Linked DNA regions of Homo sapiens: region 1 is linked to region 2. The links come from fine-mapping of genetic effects on gene expression. Tissue or cell type: prefrontal cortex. Region 2 holds a variant in brackets; the other region holds the start of a gene. All regions are shown on one strand. Distances are between the middles of the regions. Region 1 holds the start of LINC03000 (long intergenic non-protein coding RNA 3000). Region 2 has its middle 43 kb from the start of LINC03000.

The links. PIP is the estimated chance that this variant, and not a neighbour inherited with it, causes the effect.
Region 1: LINC03000 starts here. The variant in region 2 is the best candidate, but not a certain one, in a credible set for the expression of LINC03000 in prefrontal cortex (CommonMind, PIP 0.87).

What each region holds. Positions count from the first base shown.
Region 1 is chr5:164,295,291-164,298,219 of GRCh38, reverse strand. LINC03000 (long intergenic non-protein coding RNA 3000) reads right to left here and starts at 1,515. Exons shown (of 5, transcript XR_001742489.2): 1 at 1,024-1,515.
Region 2 is chr5:164,252,085-164,255,013 of GRCh38, reverse strand. No RefSeq gene overlaps it. Among named protein-coding and RNA genes, the nearest start is that of LINC03000, 43 kb to the left of the region's middle. The variant C/G (reference allele first, on the strand shown) is at 1,411.

The sequences.
Region 1 (2,929 bases), 43 kb before region 2:
TTATTAAATCTTCCTAGCTTTTAGCTTTGATCACAGACAACAATGTAATTTTACTTCCAAGTCATTGGGACCCTGAATGGGACAGCAGAATCAATCCAAGTTACAAGTGACTAATACTATGAGATGCTCTTATCAAAACAGAGCAGAGGAAAATTGTACAAGCCTCTTGATAATATTACTCCTATATCTCTATAGACATTCAACACATTATTAATATGTTTCTGTGATTACAGTTTTCCCAGCTATATCAACAACTCCGAGTGACCTCACCTGAAAGCTAATTTTATTTTGTAAAAACTGACAAGTGAAGATGGAGACCAGTTATAAAAACAAAGGTAATTTTGTAATTTTTATGTAAAGCAAACTCGAGACTCAATGATATCATACAGCATGTGAATTATCACCATCCTTGCATTTTCTCTTAGTCTTACAAATATTTCACATGTTCATGCTACCTATTGATGATATATGTATGTACACAAGATAACACCTTCTCAGTAAAGGCTAGAACAGCACATCTTTCTGACTGAGTAGATTACACCACATGGTAATGATGTGATCAAACTCCACAAGTTATGTGCCTCATCATTAGTTTCCCCAAACTATGAGGTTTAAAAAAAAAAAAAAAGCCACTAAACATATACACAGCACAGCACTGTAGCAAGAGAATAATTTTGGCTTATCCAAATGATAGTGAATAATTCAGTACATTTAGAAAAAAAAAATATATATATATATTATGAAATGCATCCCAGATCCCAGTTTAAGTTCAAGTTCCCAACTGTGAACTCAGAGCTCATGGAAATACAATTATGTAGATTCCTCTTAGCAAAGATTTAGTAGTGGTTCCTTCATTTAACAGCAGTTTTTTCTTAGTGAAATTATTTACTTGAAGAGAGGCTAATATGAAGGGAAAAAGGCAGTTCAACATAGACCAGGCACAATATAAAAAAAGTATTCATAGTTTAAAGTGTGTTAAAGTGTAATGATGTCACAAATAGACAAATCTTAACTGCGTCTTACCTGTAGTAGCAGAGTGTCTTGATACTGTTGAGTGTCGAAAAGATGCAAGTCTCTAAATTAGAAAACAAGGGGCTGTTTGCGCTCCCAGTTTCAGCACAGCCAGTGTTCTATGCGTAAGTAATAAATTGCCTCGTCAAAGTCGTCCCAGCCACGGTGTTCATAGGCAATAGTTAGAATCACTGCCCGAAGTCTTGCTTGATGCTGCTCCCACAGCCTCTGCCTTTGCACAGAGACCTAATGTAGGAGTGAGCCGGAGAACATCCTCTTCGCCCCCCTCTCTCCCCCTCCCTTTTGCGTGGTCTTTCTTCCTCTGTAGCTCACTCTCTCTCACGAATGGAGAGTTATCCTTTGGTTCATTCGGCAGTCAAAGAGGACAGGCTGGCAGGCAACAGTGCAGCTGCCCCCATGCTGAGGCACATGAATGTGTTGTGAATAAAGACAAAGCCCTGAACCAGTGCAGCACGTTACTCCCTGGAAAAGCGCTGCAATGATACTCTGCACTGCAACTCCTCAGGCAGGCAGGCAGGCAGGCAGGCAGGCAGAGCGGTGGACTGAATTTCCCTCGCTTTCCCTCCTAGGAACGTACATTATAAAGTTTGGCTCAGGACCTTGCTTCTCCTCTAAGGGACCACATTTTCTGTGGGTAAAAAATGTTTTATTAAATGTCTGGACACCCTGAACAAAACTATTTTAGATAGTTTTCTACTCTGCTAAACTTGGAGAACCTACCTCATTCCCAAGCTGTCGCCAAAGTAACTGAATTTTCTAACTTTGGAAGATAAAGATCAGGTATGTTAGGCCCCAGAAAAATGTTTTCATGGTAGGGGAAGATGAATTTCTCTAGTCTCAGTATTCCTGAGGGACTGAGTAGGGAGGGTTGGGGAGAGGTGAGCAAACAAACAAAAAGCATCCATATCTCACAGGTGCCAAAAATAGAAACTGAGATAAACTAAAGTGAAACTGATGAACGAGTCTGAAAGAAGGTAAGTGCAAAGAATTGAACAGAGTGAATTAATGGTACTCACTGGTTTCCTATAGCTATCATTCAGTTTTGATAACAAAAAATCATCCTACTTATATACATCATGTTTTGCTGTGGCTTTTGCAAGTATTAATAGACAAATAAACGTAGGCTAATATATACCACATATTTAAGAAAGATTTAGCAGATAATGGCCTACAGGTATTTGCATAAAGAGAGTCAGAAGTTGTTTTCATGCTAACAAAACTACAGGTGGTTACTAAACTATGGATACAGAACTTTGAGATGCACACTCTCAAATACTGGTCCTAATCAATGTATACTGTAACGATGAGACTTTTAAAGCACAATCATATAATGTAGGCAACAGTATTTGGTAAAATAATTAAGTATAAGTTAGGATGAGACTTTTCCATGAATGCCAAAACACCTGAAGTAAATAGTTGCTAGACTAAAATATAACTTTATTTCTATCCCTGATGAAAATGAAGTCTGCAGCTAAGTGTTCCAGGGCTAGATATGAGCTCCATGATATCAGGAACTAGGCTCCTTGTTGCTCCACCATTAGCAACACACTCCAAGATAGTATCTCAAGCTTTAGCCACTAAATTGGTATTCAAACTTCAGGAGCTGAGAAGAATGAGGACAATATGTTCCCTATTTAAGGACATACCTTGGAAGTTGAACATGACATGTTTTTGACTAGAAATTAACCATATGGCCAGAGCTTACTGCAAATGAGACTGGAAGACTGGAAAATAGAGTGTCTATGTGAAATGGCCATGTATATGGCTAAAAACCTGAAGAGCCTTTTACTTAAAAAGAAGAAAACAAGGGAATATGGGGGAAATAATAGTGTCTGCCATAGTAAGATTGATGGATATCGTAAGTGATATCACAGCATCCGTTTCACCTTTATTCCAT
Region 2 (2,929 bases):
AAACTTACAATCCTGGCGAAAAGCAAAGAGGAAGCAAGGCACTTCCTTTACAAGGCGGCAGGAGGGAAAATGAAGGCAAGAGGAACTACCAAACACTTTAAAACCATCAGATCTCGTGAGAACTCACTCACTATCACGAGAACAGCACGGGGAAAACCACCCCCATGATTCAATTACCTATACCTGGTCTCTTCCTTTACACCTGGGGATTATATGGATTACAATTCAAGATGAGATTTTGGGTGGGGACACAGCCAAACCATATCACACATATTGTGCTAGTTTTTCCAGATAATGGTAGAAGTCTAAATGGACTGTAGGGCAACACAAAATCAAGCTCCAGACCTGGCCAGGCGCAGAGAGACTCACCTGAGCAGGGCAAAGCCATGTGCACTGAGACCTGTGGCATCTAATTCTTTTCTGGGGGCCACCTCTGTGTGTCCCTGGCACTTACAGTGTGCACATGTGTGTGGCCGCTATCTGGCCATCCATATAATTCACTGTGCCTAAAACACTGCAAATAGTCAACTCGTGTTAATTTCTCTTCTTTGTTTTTGAAGGAGAATATATTTTCTGTATCTTTAGTTTCTTTAACTCAACACATATTTACTGCTTATTTACAACCTGTGTAGTGTGAAGGGTTGGGAATGCTGTATTTTCTGGGGAAGGACTGGGCTCTTAGAATACAGACAAGGGAGGGGTCTTTGTACTGTAATTCCTTGTCCTTAATTTTCTAAGTGAATGGATAAGAGGAAAAGGAAAAATCTGTTCAGTGAGACCTGGCTTTATTTTGGTTGGTGTGTCTCCATTGTGCCATCTGACTTTGACAATGACAGTTAAAGGTACCTATCTTCCTATGAACTTGTATCATCTATTCTTCATCATCACTGGTATCATCACAATGAGAAAAAAATAAGGTCTAGAGGAGATGTCTGTCAATCAGTTTTCAAGTTCATCTCTGTTGTAGCAGTGAGCAGACCTTCTCTTCCTGTCAATCGCCTTTTGTAACCTGAAGAAAAGGGAAAGTTACTGACTGACACCAAGGAGAATTTCTTTACATTCCATTCTCAGTATCCAAGGGACTCTGGGATTTGAGACCATAAAATTAGTGTCAATTTGAGGCCTTTCTGAGAGAAGAAGGAAAAAAAATGGAGATTACCTGAATTCATCTTCCACGGGGCCCATTGCTAACATCCAATCATAGCGGCTGTCAGTCACAGAGAAGGGCATATATTTCAATGACTGGGTATCTCTTTAATTATAGAAATGAATAATCGGGCTCCCCCAGCTCTCTTCTTAACAGCTACAGCCCATGAAATGAAAGGTTTGAACTTGAAGGATCAACACAAACAGAATTTGCAGCAATTTCTATTACTGGTTTCTTTTCTTATTGTCTGAACACAGTATTTC[C/G]TTACTGACAGAGGAAATGAATGAGGTCTGGAAACGTTTTTTCTAAGCTTCAGTGGTATTTAACGGCATTCCCTTCACCTTCTCAGGCTTTGTGGTTGTGAACAGCATCAGAAATTGATGATCTTTTCTTTAAAGATACAAATTGCTTTAAAAATCTTCTCCAAACTGTAAAAAAGTAGAGAACATTTAAGTTTTTGAGTTATCATAGAATTAGCAAACATTGTTATCATACTCACTTTGAATCAAATAAATATTTTTCATCCTATTGTTGATGATTCCTACATTATTTAGTGGTAATTTTGGGGAGACATATATCCAGAATAGTTAAGATTGAAAGAAATTGATTTTCATACTTTGTATTCTTTAGTTTTTCCCTGGGGAGTATAAAGAGGTTAATCCAGTGTTTTACACTTAAAAATTACTCTGTTGGCCCCGGGCGCAGTGGTTCACGCGTGTAATCCCAGCACTTTGGGAGGGCAAGGCGGGCAGATCACTTGAGGTCAGGGGTTCAAGACCAGCCTGGCCAACATGGTGAAACTCTGTCTCTACTAAAAACACAAAAATTAGCCGGGCGTTTTGGCGGGCGCCTGTAATCCCAGCTACTCGTGCGGCTGAGGCAGGAGAATTGCTTGAACCTGGGAGGCAGACGTTGCAGTGAGCTGAGATCATGCCACTGCACTGCAGCCTGGGAGACAGAATGAGAGTCAGTCTCAAAAAAATATATTACTCTGTTACTGTCATGATGACTTTTCTGCTATGATAGCATTGCTCCAGTTAGTAATTTACTGAGCACCTACTATGCACAACAGTGTGAAGAATATGAGAGTTGATCATGCTTTACCTAAAGAAATTAGTGGCCAGTATGAAAATAAATACAATGAAACATTTATAAAAGTAATGAGTATACTGAGAGGGACAGAGATAAAGCCCTTTGGAAGTTTAGAAGCCTGAGAAATAAATGCCTCTGGATAAAATCATGGAAGACTTCCTGGGCGCAAATTGGCATTTATACAGGCTCTTTGGATGTTAAGTACAATTTCACAAGTAAATAATCAGTGAAGGAAAAGTGGAGTGAGAAAAAAGTGTTACAGTGAAACAAGATGTATAAATTGTACAAGATGTGTAAATTGTATAAGAATGACAGTAAAAGTATTCACCAACAGAGATCCAGCATGTATTGTCAGAGCTTTTAATTTCAGGATAAGTAGTTGGTGGAACTTTTGGTTTATTTTATTTATATTTAACTTTTATTTTCACTTCAGGGCTACATGTGCACGTTTGTTATATAAGTAAATTTCATGTCGTGGGAGTTTGTTATACAGATTATTTCGTCACATAGGTAAGGCATAGTACCTGATAAGTAGGTTTTTGATCCTCACCCTCCTCAAACCCTCCTCTCTCAAGTAGACTCTGGTTTCTGTTGTTCCCTTTATTGTACTCAGGTGTACTCAATGTTTAACTCCCACTTATAAGTGAGAAAAAGTAGTATTTGATTTCTGTTCCTGTCTTAGTTCACTTA